Regions from separate parts of the Homo sapiens genome. Here region 2 is linked to region 1. Evidence: fine-mapped expression QTL. A gene starts in region 1. The other region holds a variant in brackets. All regions are shown on one strand. Distances are between the middles of the regions.

What was found. PIP is the estimated chance that this variant, and not a neighbour inherited with it, causes the effect.
Region 2: its variant is fine-mapped to the expression of STUB1 in monocytes after LPS (Quach 2016, PIP 0.95).

What each region holds. Positions count from the first base shown.
Region 1 is chr16:676,158-685,260 of GRCh38, forward strand. It overlaps STUB1 (STIP1 homology and U-box containing protein 1), which reads left to right and starts at 4,253. Exons shown (of 7, transcript NM_005861.4): 1 at 4,253-4,527; 2 at 4,995-5,193; 3 at 5,281-5,446; 4 at 5,636-5,723; 5 at 5,863-5,919; 6 at 6,008-6,124; 7 at 6,207-6,644. The coding sequence starts at 4,369. The coding sequence ends at 6,332. It overlaps RHBDL1 (rhomboid like 1), which reads left to right. Exons shown (of 8, transcript NM_001278720.2): 2 at 179-340; 3 at 515-739; 4 at 814-962; 5 at 1,119-1,231; 6 at 1,302-1,402; 7 at 1,482-1,542; 8 at 1,624-2,111. The coding sequence ends at 1,895. JMJD8 (jumonji domain containing 8) reads right to left here and starts at 8,177. Exons shown (of 9, transcript NM_001005920.4): 1 at 8,077-8,177; 2 at 7,909-7,998; 3 at 7,704-7,752; 4 at 7,528-7,624; 5 at 7,373-7,441; 6 at 7,165-7,284; 7 at 7,010-7,077; 8 at 6,796-6,930; 9 at 5,513-6,717. The coding sequence starts at 8,162. The coding sequence ends at 6,637. It overlaps WDR24 (WD repeat domain 24), which reads right to left. Exons shown (of 9, transcript NM_032259.4): 7 at 9,100-9,103; 8 at 8,835-9,019; 9 at 8,465-8,745. The coding sequence ends at 8,577. It also overlaps the pseudogene STUB1-DT. RefSeq lists silencers at 3,732-3,841, 4,122-4,331, 7,847-8,156 and enhancers at 5,012-5,061, 5,032-5,619, 5,620-6,207, 8,557-8,606.
Region 2 is chr16:935,180-944,719 of GRCh38, forward strand. All of the region lies in intron 2 of LMF1 (lipase maturation factor 1), which reads right to left. Among named protein-coding and RNA genes, the nearest start is that of LMF1-AS1, 19 kb to the left of the region's middle. The variant C/T (reference allele first, on the strand shown) is at 4,357.

The DNA of each region.
Region 1 (9,103 bases):
CACCAGTGCCCTGCCAGCTCCTGGGATCAAGCAGGGTCCCAGGGAACAGACAGGCACGGGGCCCCTGTCCCAAAAGTGCTGGGAGCCTGAGCCTGATGCTCCCAGCCAGCCTGGCCCAGCCCTTTGGTCCAGGGGTCGGGCCCGCACTCAGGCCTTGGCTGGCGGCTCCTCACTGCAGCAGCTGGACCCCGAGAACACAGGCTTCATCGGTGCGGACACCTTCACTGGCCTGGTGCACAGCCATGAGCTGCCCCTGGACCCGGCCAAGCTGGACATGCTGGTGGCCCTGGCTCAGAGCAACGAGCAGGGCCAGGTCTGCTACCAGGAGCTGGTGGACCTGGTCAGTGCCACGGTGGGCAGGCGGCAGGGGCACGGTGTCCTGGCCAGAGGAGGCGGGCAGGCAGCTCCTCACGGCGGTGGGTGGGGGGCTTGTGGATGCGGGGAGCTGGGTGAGCCTCACAGGCAGGGGTGCCATGGGGAGGTCCGTGGCCCACACTCAGGCCCCTGCCCCCAGATCAGCAGCAAGCGCTCCAGCAGTTTCAAGCGGGCCATTGCTAACGGACAGCGGGCACTGCCCCGGGACGGGCCGCTGGATGAGCCAGGCCTAGGTGTCTACAAGCGGTTTGTGCGTTACGTGGCCTACGAGATCCTGCCTTGTGAGGTGGACCGCCGCTGGTACTTCTACCGTCACCGCAGCTGCCCACCCCCCGTGTTCATGGCCTCGGTCACTCTTGCCCAGGTGGGCCCCCCGGCCGCTGCCCCGGGAGCCTCCCGCGCTCCTGGCCATGACCAGCCTAACACTCGTGTCCCCAGATCATCGTGTTCCTGTGTTACGGGGCCCGCCTCAACAAGTGGGTGCTGCAGACCTACCACCCCGAGTACATGAAGAGCCCCCTTGTGTACCACCCCGGGCACCGTGCCCGCGCCTGGCGCTTCCTCACCTACATGTTCATGCACGTTGGGTGAGTAGCACTGCTGCCCGGTGAGCCCCGCCCCAACCTGCCATTACATCAGAAAGGCTTAGCCGCAAGGCAGGTGCGGCAACTTGAGGTGACGGCTGGGGGTGGGGCCGGATGGCTGACCCCACCCTTCGTACCCGTTTGCTTCCCTGTGGCCAGGCTGGAGCAGCTGGGGTTCAACGCCCTCCTGCAGCTGATGATCGGGGTGCCCCTGGAGATGGTGCACGGCCTGCTCCGCATCAGCCTGCTCTACCTGGCAGGCGTGCTGGCAGGTGAGGCAGGCGCGCACCCCCGCCCCCTGCCCTGGCCGGCTGCACCCTCACCCGCCGCTTGCTCACACAGGCTCCCTAACCGTCTCCATCACCGACATGCGGGCCCCGGTGGTGGGAGGCTCCGGCGGGGTCTACGCCCTGTGCTCGGCACACCTGGCCAACGTTGTCATGGTAACGGGCCTGCCCGGTGGGGGGCGTGGGGAGGGGCCCCAGGTGAGCCTCACCACTTCTCGTCTGCACACACCCATAGAACTGGGCTGGGATGAGATGTCCCTACAAGTTGCTGAGGATGGTGCTGGCCTTGGTGTGCAGTGAGTAGGGGCCGGGGGGAGGGCCGGGGGGCCTCTCAGCCTGCAGCCAGGGCACCTCCCACCTGCCGCGTCCCTCTGCAGTGAGCTCCGAGGTGGGCCGGGCCGTGTGGCTGCGCTTCTCCCCGCCGCTGCCCGCCTCGGGCCCACAGCCCAGCTTCATGGCGCACCTGGCAGGCGCGGTGGTGGGGGTGAGCATGGGCCTGACCATCCTGCGGAGCTACGAGGAGCGCCTGCGGGACCAGTGCGGCTGGTGGGTGGTGCTGCTGGCCTACGGCACCTTCCTGCTCTTCGCCGTCTTCTGGAACGTCTTCGCCTACGACCTGCTGGGCGCCCACATCCCCCCACCGCCCTGACCGGCTACCTGAGGCTGCACAGGCCAGGGCTCGGGCATGTGGTGGCCGCCCACCAGGGGCCTTCACGTCTGCCCTTTGTGAACGGACGTCTCAGGGCTGCTGTGCCCCTTGGGTGTGGGTGGCCTCAAAGGAGGCCCTGTCCCAGCCACCCACCCCCCACTCCCAGGACTTGCGGTCTGAGCCTTTTTGGATAATTAATAAATATTTTACACAGCACCAGGGGGCTGTCCCGGGCTCTGGAGACTCGTCAGGGCCCCCACACCTGCTGCACAGACCGCGACGGCCCTCCCCACCACGGGGGCCTGGACTTCCCTCCTTGTGCATCTCTGCACCTGGGGTCAGGCGTGGGAGTTGTTCCTGGGCCACAGGTGCTGTGTCTGTGGGAGCTGGGGGCACGCGGGATGGCTGGGGGCCGGGCGTGTGGTCAGGCCAGGTGTGTGGTCAGGCCGGGTGTGTGATCAGGCGTGAGTTTGGGAAGTGTTTATTGAGCTCCCGTAGTGGCCAGCCTCCTCTTCAGCCTCCCTGCCGTCCAGTGAGACCCGGAGGCCTGAGGTTCTGTGGCAGGTGAGCAGGCCTGGGCCATGGCCAAGTTTACTCGGCCTGGGTTCCATGCTTCTTGGCTGGCCTAGCATCCTCGTGGGTGGCCAGGCTGGGGCCAAGGTTGGGCAGCAGGTCTGGGCACAGCCTCTGCCCCACAGCCCAGGTCCACAGTGCTGTCTCCACTAGGTAGGGAGTCCACTGTCCTGAGGCACTGGCTAGGGAGGGGCACACGGACTCAGGCCCAGGGGCACGGGCCACCCCAACCTGCCCACACACAGTTCATTCCCCTTGGCTCAGAGCTGTGGCCCGCTCTTGAACCTGGCCCAGGTACAGCAGGTAGTACCTGAGGGTGTACTGTGGGGCCGGCCAGCCGGGCACTGTGGCCACCGCCTCATCTGACATGAAGGCCTCCATCTCTGGAGCTCCAGCTGCCAGGACTGCTGTGAACAGCGAGGAGAAGCAGCCAGACACACCCCATCAGGACAAGCTCTGGGAGACCCTGCTCCCAGCAGCCCAGGGCCCTATGGTTCCTGCTCCTAGCGACACGCAAGGGCCCAGACTGCCCGCTTCACAGACAAGAACGCCTATGTACCCAAGTCGTGCCCACCCAACTCACCCGAGGCTGTGGTGGGCCCACACCGCAGAGGGCACACAGCTCGGTGACTGCAGCCCCCACATCTGGCAGGAGGCAGAAGGTGGCGGTCGAACAGTGCACAACCAGCTCAGGGGGATTGGTGGCCACCAGCTGCTGCAGACGTGGCCGGAAGCGCCCCTCTGTGGGAGGCCAGGTCAGGGTGCCTGGGGTGCTGGACCCACCAGGGAGGCCCCGCCCCCACTGGAGACACCCGCCCCGCCGATGCCACGCCCCAATGAAGACCCGCGCTACGGAGGCCCTGCCCTCGGGGCGGGCCGCCCTTCACAGTCAAGCTGCCAGGCCAGCAGCCGCTCCAGCTCCCTGTCACATGCTTCTCTGCTCTGCCCCTGATGGCCGCTGGCAACTCTTCCCGATACCTGAGGAAGGGCGGTGAGGGGAGGACTGGCCACGGAGGACGCTCGCCCCACCGATCTCTATCCCCTTCCACTCTACCAACAGTCCGGGGCTTCCAGCCGCCCTCGGGGGCTCGCGCTCGCCCGTAGCACCTCTCGTGGCGCTCCAGAATGGCAGCCCAGCGACTGGGGTCCTCACACCCCACAGCGCGTGGGAAGCCGCTACGTTCACGCGCAGGGGCGGGAGGCGGCGGCTGGGGGCGGGGCCTCTGCTGATGGGGCCGGGTGCTGGGGGCGGGGCCTCTGGATTGGGCGGTTGCTGGGGGCGGGGCCTCTGCGGATGGGGCTGGGGGCGGGGCCTCTGCTGATGGGGCCGGCGGCTGGGGGCGGGGCCTCTGGATTGGGCGGCTGCTGGGGGCGGGGCCTCTGCGGATGGGGCCGGCTGCTGGGGGCGGGGCCTCTGGATGGGGCCGGCTGCCGGGGGAGGGGTCTCTGCGCGTTGGGACAGGGGCGGAACCCCAGGTGGTCGGGACAGGCTGTTGCGGGAGCGCGCCCTCAGCGAAGCAAGTGAGGCATCTCACTGGGAAAGTCGAATGTGTGTGGCGGCCGCCGCCGAGGCGGGTTCCGAAGAGACCTCAGCAGGGCAGGCCAGGGCCTACGCGAACGCCCACCCTTAAGAGCGCGGGGACAGGGAACTGGAGCGTTCCTCCCAGCCCCCGACGTCGCGGGCCCAGTGTCCCCGTCCAGGCTGGTTGGGCGCACGCGCGGCCCCACTCGCCCCCACGCGTGCGTCCCCGCTGGTCCCGCCCCCGGCCGGAAGTTCCGGCGGCGGAGCTGGGCCGGGCCCGAGCGGATCGCGGGCTCGGGCTGCGGGGCTCCGGCTGCGGGCGCTGGGCCGCGAGGCGCGGAGCTTGGGAGCGGAGCCCAGGCCGTGCCGCGCGGCGCCATGAAGGGCAAGGAGGAGAAGGAGGGCGGCGCACGGCTGGGCGCTGGCGGCGGAAGCCCCGAGAAGAGCCCGAGCGCGCAGGAGCTCAAGGAGCAGGGCAATCGTCTGTTCGTGGGCCGAAAGTACCCGGAGGCGGCGGCCTGCTACGGCCGCGCGATCGTGAGTGCGCCCGCGCGGGGAGGGCGGCGGCGGTGGCACCGGGGAGGGCCGGGCCCGGGCCCGGCCGGCCCCACCGAGGGTCTGGCTCCTCTTCGGGGCGTGTCCTCGGCTCCCAAAGCCCAGCCGTGGTTCTCGAGCCCAGCGCCGGGTGCCGGAGAACGAGGGTGCGATGCTGGATGGAGGCCGGCCGGGTGGGGGGAGGGCAGGGGCCCTCGACCCTTGAGGACCCCAGGTCCTAAGCCCGGACTCTCCAAAGATTTGGAAAACTTTACAAAACCAAGTGGAATCAAGCGGATAGGCTCAGCCAGTACTCCACTGTGCACAGATCCTTGGACCCAGGGGCTTTGACAACTGAGAAACCTAGTTTCTTGATTCTAGCCAGAGCGCAGAAGCTGGGACGGGCCGTGGGTCAGAGTGGGCACGCTGAGCCTACGCCCTCATGCGGCTGGCCCGGCCTTGGTCCCTAGACCCGGAACCCGCTGGTGGCCGTGTATTACACCAACCGGGCCTTGTGCTACCTGAAGATGCAGCAGCACGAGCAGGCCCTGGCCGACTGCCGGCGCGCCCTGGAGCTGGACGGGCAGTCTGTGAAGGCGCACTTCTTCCTGGGGCAGTGCCAGCTGGAGATGGAGAGCTATGATGAGGCCATCGCCAATCTGCAGCGAGGTTGGCTGACAAGCTGCCCGGTTGTGGGGCCTCTGGGGCCAGGCGGGTGGACTGGCCAGAGAGTGACGTGAAGCCCCCGTTCCCCAGCTTACAGCCTGGCCAAGGAGCAGCGGCTGAACTTCGGGGACGACATCCCCAGCGCTCTTCGAATCGCGAAGAAGAAGCGCTGGAACAGCATTGAGGAGCGGCGCATCCACCAGGAGAGCGAGCTGCACTCCTACCTCTCCAGGCTCATTGCCGCGGAGCGTGAGAGGTGGGACCCTCACCCCAGGCCGCCCTGTCTTGGGATAATTCTGAATCACCGACTCCCGACACAAGCGTTTATCGAAGGCTTTACTGGCAAGCAGGAAATGTGGGGAAGTGTGGATGTTAGCTCTGAGATTGGGGTGTGGTCAGACATCTGGCCAGGTCCATCTCTGACCGGCTCCTGGTCAACCCCCAGGGAGCTGGAAGAGTGCCAGCGAAACCACGAGGGTGATGAGGACGACAGCCACGTCCGGGCCCAGCAGGCCTGCATTGAGGCCAAGCACGTGAGGGTGCCCCCCACCCACATGTGGGTCTGTGTGTGTGCACGTGGCGTGGGAGCATCCCCGCCTTGTGTTGGGTCTGTGCCCCATGGAGGAGGGAGGTGGGGTGTCTCCCCCAAGCACAGCACTCAACTCTTCACAGGACAAGTACATGGCGGACATGGACGAGCTTTTTTCTCAGGTGGATGAGAAGAGGAAGGTGAGTGTGTGTCGCTTGCTGCCGATGGCTGGCAGGTGCTCGTGCAGTGCCCCTTTTCAGCCTCTGACCGTGTGCCCCTGTGCCACAGAAGCGAGACATCCCCGACTACCTGTGTGGCAAGATCAGCTTTGAGCTGATGCGGGAGCCGTGCATCACGCCCAGTGGCATCACCTACGACCGCAAGGACATCGAGGAGCACCTGCAGGTGAGGCCTGCGGCTGGGGGAGCAGGGCCAGTGGCATGGTCCTGGGCCCCATGACTGCCCTCTGCCCTTCTTGTCACTGCAGCGTGTGGGTCATTTTGACCCCGTGACCCGGAGCCCCCTGACCCAGGAACAGCTCATCCCCAACTTGGCTATGAAGGAGGTTATTGACGCATTCATCTCTGAGAATGGCTGGGTGGAGGACTACTGAGGTTCCCTGCCCTACCTGGCGTCCTGGTCCAGGGGAGCCCTGGGCAGAAGCCCCCGGCCCCTATACATAGTTTATGTTCCTGGCCACCCCGACCGCTTCCCCCAAGTTCTGCTGTTGGACTCTGGACTGTTTCCCCTCTCAGCATCGCTTTTGCTGGGCCGTGATCGTCCCCCTTTGTGGGCTGGAAAAGCAGGTGAGGGTGGGCTGGGCTGAGGCCATTGCCGCCACTATCTGTGTAATAAAATCCGTGAGCACGAGGTGGGACGTGCTGGTGTGTGACCGGCAGTCCTGCCAGCTGTTTTGGCTAGCCGAGGAAGGTGGAGATGAAGACGCTGGTGTCAAGGTTGAGCGTAGCATGCCACCAGCGGTCGGGGAAGTACAGCACCTGGTGGAGGAAGGGGGTGCAGCAGAGATTAGCTGCGGGCCTCTAGCCTGGCCTGGCCCTCTCCTGCCAGCCACTGACCTCACCAGCCCGGATGGTACACTCCAGGGGCCGTGCAGACGGTGGCAGGGCTGGGTATGTGTCCCGGAGCCAGGCCAGCGTGGTCTTGTTGGGGTGGAACTCTGGCGTCTTCTCAGGTGGGTAAAGGAACCAGCGCTGGGGGCATGAGCAGCAGTGTCACCCTTGCCCGTTTTGGTCAGCGAGTCCCAAGCCTCAACCCCCACCCCGTGCTGACCTTACGACCGTAGATCACTTCTGAGTACCCGGGTCCATGCCAGTGGAAGGGCACCCCCGAGCCAGCTCCTGTGGGGTTATGAGCACCTGGTGACCAACCCATTTTGTACTCACCGACAGAAGCCTCAGTCCTTCCCAGTCCCAAGAAGCACCCACCTGCGATTCCAAAGCTGTAAGCTGGAGCGGTTCCCAGCAGGCCAAATGGGGGTGGGGAGTAGTGCCGAAAGAGAGAGGCCCACTCGGTGAAGTTGTTGTCCCCGAAGAAGTACAGGGTGTCTGCCAACAGAGACGGCGGGGACAGGGATCCTGGCACCTGGAGACTCCAAGCGTCCCCACCCCCTACCGCCGCCTAGGGCTGCCTCACCATTGCCCAGGGAGGTGGGGTCCTGGGGGTGCAGCAGCTGCTCCACATACTCCTGGAAGGGCAAGTCCACTGCAGGAAAGAGACGGGTCAGGACCGTCTGGTCCAGCCGCCCCGGTGTTGGCAAATGGGCGGGCCCCAGGGGTGAGGCCGCGTACCTTTGTGGTAGGAGTAGGTGTTGGCGGTGCTCAGCCGGACCACTCTGTCCCCAAACGAAGCCAGCAACCTGTCGCGGGAGCACAGGGCCCGGAACCTCTGCGGGGGCGGGGAGGGGACTTAGTGGCCGGGCCCAGCACGGGCGAGAGTGGCCGGGGACGGACGGGCACGCGCTCACCGAGTTGTCCGTGAGTCCCTGCAGGATGACGGGCCTGACGAAGGCGTACCTGGAAAGAAGGGCAGAGTCGCGGCCAGGCCGGACCGCCAGCCTCGCCGCCCCAGCCCCACGCGTGCGCGCGAGGTCAGGGGAAGGCGGCCTTGGGCGGTCGGGGCAGACGGGCCGGTGAACAGGACGCGACCTCCGCGATCAGGGGCGCACGTACTGCTGCACGAACTCCGCGTAGGTGAGGTCGGCCCGACGCTCCACCGTGCAGCGCTCCTCCTCCGCCACGGCCCCCGGCCCGCCCGGGCGCCTGCGGGCACAGCTGGGTCAGCCCGCGCCCCGCCCGCCGCACGTGACCCCACCGCCCGGCCCCTCCCGGGCCGCTCACCACCCGCCGTCGCCCTCCGCCCCGGAGCCGGGTAGAGCCACAGCCGCCAGCGCCCAGAGCGCGAGCAACCGCGACGCCGGCGCCATGAGCCTGCCGCCCTCAGGCAGCCGCGCTGCACGCCGGGAACCTTGGGCCCATCCGCCAGCCATTGGCCGGCAGCTTCGTCGTCGTGGCAACGGCCGGGAACCGGGACGGACCCCGGAAGTGACCTCCTTTGGCCCGCCCCGGAAGAGGCCTCTACGGGAGGCACTGGGAAGGCCGCCCCGAGAGCGACTATGGGCGCCGCCGGTTACCATGGCGACAACCCCGCCGAAAGCCCCCGCCCGCCAGCTGCCCCGCGGGCCTACGGCGAGCCCGCCGCGCTATGGGGTGACACGCAGTGCCGACAGCGGCTCTACTTCCTTTATTGAGGTCTCAAGTTCCAGCCTCCGCCCGTCTCGGGCACAAGACCAGGCGGGGTTCTGCACGCGGCCGCCCGGGCAAGCCCAGCAGATGCCCCGTCAGGAGTACTCGCAGAGGTGGCCGCAGCCTGCGGGACAGTGGGAGCTGCCTTCCAGCCACTTCATGATGTGCTGCAGGTGGCCGCCGTGGCTGCAGCCCTGGCACCACACGAAGAGACCCTTGACTACGTGGTGGCAGACGGCACACATGCTGGCGCAGCGGTGGCACCTGGGGGCGGGCGGGAGGGAGGGTGCCTCAGCGGGGGCTGCTGCGCTGCCTGCAGGCCCCTGCCCCACCTCCCGACCCCACTGCCCCACCTGTCGCAGACCCAGCCCCGGCTGCTCATGGGCCGCTTGCAGTGGCTGCAGTTGACGTGCAGGGTGGTGGAGGCCTGGTTGAGGCAGCTGACGGCGCGGCTGGTGCTCAGCTTGACCACCTCGTTGGACACGTTCCAGAGGCGGAAGCGCTGCAGCAGGTCGATGTAGGAAGTGTACCAGTGCTCCTGGGGGAGGGAGCGCCCGGCAGTCAGGATCTGGGTGCCAGGGGCGGCGCTGCAGGGGGGAGGCCCCGCCCACCACACACCTGG
Region 2 (9,540 bases), 260 kb after region 1:
ACCTCAAGCTCCTGGGCTGAAGCAGTCCTCCCGCCTCAGCCTCCTGAGTTGCTGGGACCACAGGTGTACACCATGATGCCCCACTAATTTTTGTATTTTCTATAGAGGTTTTGCCATGTTGCCCTGGCTGGTCTCAAACTCCTAGACTCAGGCGATCCTCCTGCCTCCACCTCCCTAAGTGCTGGGATGACAGGTGTGAACTGCCCCAGCCAGAATGTTTTCAACGTGGTGCTGATGGCTTCAGAGTCCATGAATATGTACGCTGACTTGTACACTTTATGTCAGGGTTGTCGGTTGTCCAATCTTGTGGCTTCCGTGGGCCACAATGGAAGAAGAAAAATTGTCTTGGGCCACACATAAAATATACTAACACTAGTGACAGCTGATGAGCTAAAAAAAAAAAAACTCATAATGTTTTAAGAAAGTTTATGAATTTGTGTTGGGTCTCATTCAAAGCCATCCTGAGCCGCGTGTGGACAAGCTTGCTTTAAATGCAGTTTTATGGTATGTGAATTCTATCTCACTAAAGACATTAAGGAGCAACGTTGCCTAATGAAATCCACAGGAATGAAAAGCTACAGGGTGTGGGACGGCCCTCAGGGCCCACTGCCCATCCCAGGGCTCCCTACATCGTCCGACCTTTGAATATGTCTGTGATTTTCCACCTTGACATTACGATAAAAGCACAGCAAAGGCCATGACAAACGACATCTGAGCCGTGGGGGAGGTGGGCGGGGACAGAGTACTGGAGGGCTCATTCTTCAACCGCATCAGGTGTGTGGCTGCCCCAGTGGCTCTGATATCTTTTTAAATCATCCCTTACCCGGTAGAGGTCCACACTATTTATAGGTAAAAGAGTACGAAGTCTAGATTTGCTTTTCACTCCAGAGGAAGAAGGCTGGGAGGGAGAGAGGGCACCCCGTTGGCTGAGGAAGGAGGCTGGGAGGGAGAGAGGGCACCCCGTGGGCTGAGGAAGGTGGCTGGGAGACAGAGGGGGCACCGTGTGGGCTGAGGAAGGAGGCTGGGAGAGAGGGGGTACCCCGTGGGCTGAGGAAGGAGGCTGGGAGGGAGAGAGGGCACCCCGTGGGCTGAGGAAGGAGGCTGGGAGGGAGAGAGGGCACCCCGTGGGCTGAGGAAGGTGGCTGGGAGAGAGAGGGGGCACCGTGTGGGCTGAGGAAGGAGGCTAGGAGAGAGGGGGTACCCCGTGGGCTGAGGAAGCAGGCTGGGAGGGAGAGAGGGCACCCCGTGGGCTGAGGAAGGAGGCTGGGAGGGAGGGAGGGCACCCCGTGGGCTGAGGAAGGTGGCTGGGAGAGAGAGGAGGCACCCTGTGGGCTCAGGAAGGAGGCTGGGAGAGAGGGGGTACCCCGTGGGCTGAGGAAGCTGGCTGGGAGGGAGAGAGGGCACCCCGTGGGCTGAGGAAGGAGGCTGGGAGGGAGAGAGGGCACTCTGTGGGCTGCAGGATACACTCCCTGCCCCCCTTTCCGTGACCAAAATCTTCCAAGCAACCGCTGTACACATTGGCTAATGCTAGAAATAAATTTACCCCCAAAATGTTCCCAATATATAACCTTAGTTGAACGGAGAAAGGAAAAGGAGCTGATTTTTCAAATCCATAGAGAATAAAAGCTTTGCTCTTTTATTAGCCAGGTGTGGTGGCGCACACCTGTAGTCCCAGTGACCTTGGGGCCGAGGCTGGAAGATGGCTTAAGCCCAGGAGTTCCAGGCTGCAGTGAGCCAAGATCGCGCTACTATTGCACTCCAGCCTGGGCGACAGGGCGGGAGATCCTAGCTAAAAAGACGCAGCCTCACGCTTTTATCAGAAGGGACCAAGGCCTGGAAGAGTTTCAGTGACTCAGGGCCACCAAAATACAAGCGTTGTGCAGAGAAGGGGTGAGTCCAGACGCAGCTGCCTTCACATCGGCTGAGGGTGTTCGAAAATGCATTCTTCTGTCACTTCACCTGCTTTGAATTTTGCATTTCAAGGCTGCCTGATAAAAGAATCTTTAAATAGCAGGTTTTAGCTAAGGTAATGACACGAAAAACTAAAACGTCTTATTACTTTCATAGCTTTTATTACATTTTCAACAGTTGGAACTCACGTTAGAAGATACCGACTCCGTGGAGTTCTTCTGGGTTTGTTCTGCTGTTTTGTTCTTTAAAGAAACTCAAGTCCTTTCCTGGACAGTGGGACGTAGATTTTGCTTTTGGATGGTCGGGGTTAACACGCTCCCTCTGACTGCCTAGTGAGGTCAGGAACCTGCTCCCCTGTGAGCCTCCACACCTGACTGACAGGCCGCTGGGGTCTCTGTTGACTGACAGGCTGCTGGGGTCTCTGTTGACCGACAGGCTGCTGGGGTCTCTGTTGACTGACAGGTCGTTGGGGTCTCTGTGCTAGGGAGGCAGCAAGACCCCCGATGCCCTGCAGATGCTGCACACGGCCCCAGCACAGGCCCTGCCCCTTGCACTGGATGGGGGCTCCCATTTCTATAGGAAGCTTTTGATTTAAAAACACATTTGGCTCCAGCTACTTATCATCTGTAAAAAGACTTCATGTATAAATATTTGTTAAATTTTATGCTCCCCATTTTGGGGCAGGCTAGTTGTAAATTTGTAAGAAATCTTCCAGTTTCTGGCCTAGTGCAAAGAACTTTGCTGGAGGCCTATCTAGAGTGTGTAGTAGGGACTTAATCATGAACCATGTCCTCCTGAACCACGCCCAGGTTCCTGACTTGTGTCTGCAGCTGATCCTGAACCACGCCCAGGTTCCTGACTTGTGTCTGCAGCTGATCCCACCATCAAGACTGAAGTCTTTGTCATGTGGTGAAGGCCAAACGTGGATTTATTTACAGAAGTTACCAAAAAAAAAATACCACAAAAAAAGAGGGGCGCCTTTGGGTGAGAGCAGCTGGGGGGCTTCCATGTCTACCCGCCTCGCAGGAGAGGGGGTGGAGCACCCACCAGACCACTGTGCCTCCCACTCAATCACGGAACGGGGTGCCAGCTAGCACTGGCAAGGCCGGGACGCTGGGTCCCGCTGTGCAGGGCCATGGCCTGCCTGGCACAGGGAAGCGCTAGACTGAACAGTGGCTTGTGGGGACGGCAGGGATGGGGCTGGACAGTGGCTTGCAGGGACAGGGCTGGATGGTGGCTCGCGGGGACAGCAGGGACGGGGCTGGACGGCGGCTCACAGGGAAGGCAGGGATGGGGCTGGACGGCGGCTCGCGGGGACAGCAGGGATGGGGCTGGATGGCAGCTCGTGGGGATGGCAGGGGTGGGGCTGGACCACACATACCAGTTCGGCAGTGCCAGTGAGGCAACTGGTTCACTGAAGACATGACTGCTGCCACCCTAATGTTTAAGTTCATACAACAGAGAAAATAAAATGGTAATAACAAGAGGTGTCTTTGCAAACATCTGTCGCCTGTTGCCTCTTACTGGAGCTGCCAAGAGGAAGTCCAGGTCCCAGGGCTGTTGGGAGGACCCGGGCTGTTGAAGCCAGGCAGCGCAGGGAGCACCAAGTGCATGTGTGGCTCCCACGGACAGATGGATGGATGGACAGACGAAGGGATGGATGGACAGTGCTCCCATTACTGTGTGAAAACCGACCTCAGAGTACATAGTCCATTCACTACAGGTAAGCAATTTAAAACAGGATGTAAATATGTAAATAGCCCTTAAAAGTGTAAGGAAAAAGTGCTGGAGGCCGTTTCGACAAAGCACCTAAGGCAGCAATGAAAATGGGGAAAGACGGGCAGACTGGACACAAGAGGAAACCTGTGCAGAAAGCAAAGTCCGTGCATACAGAATGGGATGCGGCCAAGGGGTTACACCTTCCACGTGCATTTACCTTCCCGGACAGCAGGGCCTCTTACAGATGGATAAACAAAGAACATTCACACCAAAGGGGAACGGCAAAGGCAAAACACAAATCCCCAGAGAAACAACAAGAGCAAAACCAAGAAAAATAACTTGGCAGAGAAATGCGTATTTAAATAACATTATTTTCACTTAAAAACTCTCAGTGGTTTTTCGGAAATGGGATGTTCTGAGTAGGGAACAGGACAACAGCACGCTGTCCCCGCCGTGAGCACGAACCCTGGGTGCAGGCTGGCGGCACCCGTCCACCACGCACACCCTGACCCAGCAGCCCACCTCAGGAGCTAGTTCACACAGTAAGTCACAGCCCTGCAAAATATCCCTGCGCCACAAAGCTGGCCACCGAGGTGCCACTTCCAGCAATAAAAACCAGGAACAACCAACGTGCCGGCCGGTGGGCTTGGCGCAATGAGCAAACACACGTAACAGACCACCCTGTGGCCACCACACGTGCCGCCGAGCAGCGGAGGTCCAGACGGG[C/T]GCGTGGCATCTGGGGCAATGACCAGTGCGTCGCTGAGACTGCCGGCGCCAGGCCTCGACCCTGCTGTGTCTGCGGCGACCCGGCCCACTCTCCACGCGGCCTCTGCCTCTGTCAGGAGCAGTACATGCTGACCAAAGCTGCTGTAAGACAACGTCGGCGAGATGGGAAGATACTTGTGATTTGACGGGAAGTAAAAAAACTTTGGTTATTTCCAATATTGTCATAAGGACCAGGTAATGAAAATTGTTTAAGAATTAAGTGACCAGACAGGGAATAAAACAGGGTGCGCAGTCTGAGCCCACCTTTATTAGAGAGAAGCCCTGGGCAGTGGGCTAAAAGGAGGCCCCCAGAAAGACCTGTCCACATCTTAATGCCTGCACCCTGTCTTATTTGGAAAAGGGGTCTCTGTGGAGGTAATTAAGTTAAGGATCTCGAGGTGAGGGCGTCCTGGACTATGTGATCACAGACGTCCTCATCAGAGAGACGTACCAGGAACCCTGAGACAGACCAAAGGGGAGGAGGCAAAGCGGCAGGGACCCGAGTGATACGTCCACAAGCCGGGGGTGCCCGGAGCCTCCAGGGGCTGGAAGAGACGAGGAAGGACCTTCCCGCAGAGACTCGGAGGGAAGGGAAGGTCCCTCCTCCCATAGAGACTTGGGTGGAACTGGCCCTGCCGACACCCTGATTTCGGACTTCTGGCCTCAAGAACTGTGGAAGAGTAAGTGTTTCTTGTTTGAAGCCTCCCCACGTGGTCACGGTCATGGCTGCAGAATGCCGCCATGCATCTCTCACAGGGCCATGGGAACTGGTTTGGACATATCTCCATTCCCTGTTGACCACCTAGAAACACAGGCTCACCCACCGGGGACCAGCATATCATGGAGGACAAGGCAGGTGGTGTGGGAGGGTCCTCCCCGCAGGCAGCGTCCTGCCTGGGACGACGACCACAGGAAACAGCTGGGAAACCCCAAAGAGGAACACCATTTATTTAAAGGAATGCATAACTTTAAAATATCAGTGTCATAAAAGATGGATGTCCCAGAAGAGACCAGACAACTAAACCCAACGCCGAACCCTATTCTGGAAAGTAAATGCTATAAGGATTATCCTTAGGTCAGATGACAAACTGGAAAATGAGTGGGAGACGCAGTCTCAGAACCGCAACCGTGTTAAACCTACTGCAGCTGATCCCTGCAGGAATGAAAAGAACACTCTTCTTAGGAAAAACACCCGGAAGTACTGCAGGGTAAAGGGATTCATCAATTATGTCAAAGTGGCCGATAGTGCCGTTCTGATCTTCTATGTCTTCTTTTTTTTGTTTGTTTAGTTGTTCTTTCAATTATTGAAAGAGTGATTGATGTTAAAATCTCCAAACAGAATTGTGAATTTGTGTATTTCTTCCTGGAGTTCTGCAATTTTTGCTTCATATATTGTGAGGTTCAGTATGTGGTGCCTTTATGTCTTTATGATCAATTAAGTCTTTTATTACCACAAAATGTCTCTGTACACCTCTGATAATACTCCGTGTCCTGAACTTTACTTTGTCTAAAGTTAATACAGCCACTCTAGCTTTCCAGTATATTTATGTAGTCTATCCTTCTTTATCTTTATCCTTCCTCTTTCAACTCATTTGTACCTTTATATTTAAAGCATAGCTCTTGAAAACTGCATATACTTGATACCTGATTTTTTTAAATTGATTTTTTTTTTTGCGACAGAGTCTCACTCTGTTGCCCAGGCTGGAGTGCAGTGGCTCACTGCAACCTCTGCCTCCTGGGTTCAAGTGACTCTCCCTGCCTCAGCCTCCTGAGTGGCTGGGACTACAGGCACGTGCAACTATGCCCGGGTAATTTTTGTATTTTTAGTAAAGATGAGGCTTCACCATGTTGGCCAGGCTGGTCTTGAACTCCTGATGACCTCAGGTGATCTGCCTGCCTTGGCCTCCCAAAGTGCTGGCATTACAGGTATGAGCCACCATGCCTGGCCTGATTCTAAATCTCTGTCTTTTAATTGGAAGATTTAGTCACTTACATTTAATGTAATCATTGATATGGCTCATTGGTTATTTTTTGTTTTCAGAGTCTCACCTGGTTTTTCGTCCTGTTCCTCTGTTCCTGCCTTCTTACTGGAAGCAAACATGTTTAACACTCCATTTCAATCACTCCATGGGCTCCTCAGCTACATATCTTTGCACTACTTTTAGTGATTGCCCTAGGGCTAACAGCAGGTATCTCACCTACTCACAACAGACCTGGGGTTAATATTTTCTCGCTTCACGTAGAATTTAGAGAGCCAGTGATGTTACAGATTCAGGAAGGATCCCCTCCCTCCTTTGTGCTAATGTTGTGTATATTACAGTATTACAGTTTTTGCCTTAGTTGTGTCTGTATTAAATTAAGAAAAAAAGAAATAGAGAACATTTCATATTTCCCTACCTTTACCATGTCCAGTGGATTTTACTCCTTTCTATAGATGACTTTCTGCCTAGCAATAATTCTTTCTGCCAAGCAATAATTCCTTCAGCCTGAAGATATTCCTTTAACATTTCTATAGTGTGTCTGCTGGCAAAGCCTTCTCTCAGTTTTCCGTTATCTGAAAATGTCTTTATTTTGCTTTTGTTTTTGAAGGATATTGTCACTGGATAGAACTCTGGGTTGACAATCGTTTTTCTTTAGAACTCTAAAGATGCCAGTCCATCATCCTCTGGCCTCCAGTGGTTATAAGAAGCCAGACATATTTGAATCTTTATTCTTTGAGTGTAACGTCTTTTTCCTTCCAGGTGCTATCTTTGTCTTTGGTATTCGGTAGTTTGACTACAATGTGCCCAGATAACATTTTCTCTTACTTTTACTGCTTACAGTGTGCTGAGCTTCTTGGATTTACACATTTATATCATTCAGCTATTATTTCTTTAAATACTTTTTATGCCCCATTTTCTGTGTCCTCTCTCTGTGGGGCTCCAATCACAAGTATGTTAGACCACCTGGTGCTATATGCCTCATTCTCTGTGTCCTCTCTCTGTGGGGCTCCAATCACACATATGTTAGCCCACCGGGTGCTACGTGCCCCATTCTCTGCGTCCTCTCTCTGTGGGGCTCCAATCACATGTATGTTAGACCACCTGGTGCTATTTGCCCCATTCTCTGTGTCCTCTCTCTGTGGGGCTCCAATCACATGTATGTTAGACCACCTAGTGCTATATGCCCCATTCTCTGTGTCCTCTCTCTGTGGGGCTCCAATCACATGTATGTTAGACCACCTGGTGCTATATGCCCCATTCTGTGTGTCCTCTCTCTGTGGGGCTCCAATCACAGGTATGTTAGACCACCTGGTGCTATCCCACATGTCACTGAAGCTCTGCTCGTTTCAATCTTTTTTCTGTTTGTTCTTTAGCTTGGATAATTTCTACAGATTTCTCTTAAAATTCATTGAGGCTATCTTCTACCCACCTCCAACCTGTTATTAAGCCCAGGCAACAGATTTTTCAGTACAGATACTGTACTTTTCAGTTCTAAAATGTCCAATTGACTCTTCTTTAAAGATTCAGAGTCTCGGCCGGGCACGGTGGCTCACGCCTGTAATCCCAGCACTTTGGGAGGCCGAGGCGGGTGGATCACAAGGTCAGGAGATCGAGACCATCCTGGCTAACACGGTGAAACCCTGTCTCTACTAAAAATACAAAAAATTAGCCAGGTGTGGTGGTGGGCGCCTGTAGTCCCAGCTACTCAGGAGGCTGAGGCAGGAGAATGGAGTGAACCCAGGAGGTGGAGCTTGCAGTGAGCCGAGATCGCGCCACTGCACTCCAGCCTGGGCGACAGAGCGAGACTCCATCTCAAAAAAAAAAAAAAAAAAAGATTCAGAGTCTCTGCTAAATTTCCCATGTGTTCATTCATTAAGACCACTACTAGGCTGGGTGTGGTAGTTCATGCCTGTAATCCCAGCACTTTGGGAGGCCGAGGCGGGCGGATCACCTGAGGTCAGGAGTTTGAGACCAGCCTGGCCAACAATGGTGAAACACCATTTCTATTAAAAATACAAAAATTAGCTGGGTGTGGTGGTGCACACCTATAATCCCAGCTACTTGGGAGGCTGAAGCAGGAAAATTGTTTGAACCTGCGAGGTGGAGGTTGAAGTGAGCCAAGATCTCACCACTGCACTCCAGCCTGGGGGACAGAATGAGACTCTGTCTCAAAAAAAAAAAAAAAAAAAAAAAAGAGGAATACTTCCCTTGAGTCCTGGTGTGTATCTGTAATGGCTGCCTCAAATCCTCTTTTCTACGTGTGCTATCTTGGCTATCATGGTCAGTTTCTTGTGACCCTTTTTTGTTTCCTGTATAGGGATCCTATTTTCCTGTTTCTTTACTTGTGTAGTAGTTTCTGATTCTAGTTGACATTATGAAAGATCATAACATCATTGAGAAGTTAATTTTGTCTGCTTCCTTTGGAGAGTGAATGAGTCTGTCTGGTAAGCAGCTGAGCTACTGGAGGATGAACTTGGTCTTTCCAAAAGCTCAGTTAGGGTCAGTCTAGAACAGCCCTTTTCTAGGGCGAGAGGAACCCTCCTCCTAAGATGTGGCCTTTCTGGGGGCATGCGCTGAGTGCCTAGGGTCTTATGCAAGTCACCTCTGGACCGGCTGATGGGGAGGCTTGTCTCCCAGCCAGCACTGTGGGACCCTCAGACTCACCACTAAGGTCACCACTCCCTACCTGCCACTTTCCACCAACCCTCAAAGACTCTACCCGCCACTTTCCACCAACCCTCAAAGACTCTCACTCTCCACGTTCACAGCTTAGAACAAACCCAAGGACTTAGTGGAATCCATGTAGCTTTCTGTGGTGATGTCTGTGTTAGCTCCTTTACTCTAATGCCTTGCCGCACAAATGCAAGCTGCCCTCAACTCTGATCCCTGCCTCCTGAGCTTGGAGACGCCTTGTGTTCTGCTGGGTGCCCTAGCTGTGGTGTACAAGGTGCTCAGGCAGAAGGCCGGGGCCACCAAGGCCACCCTGTATGTATCTCCTTTCCAGGGACAGCAGTCCTGGGCACCTGTGCCCTCTGGTATTTCACTTGCTGACGGTTTCATAGTGGGGAGGCTCGTCCTGCACCTGCCACTCTGCCATGGACGGGCATGGAGTCCATGAAGACAAATCTCTTATTTTAAAGTATTGTTTCAATGTGAGACGTCC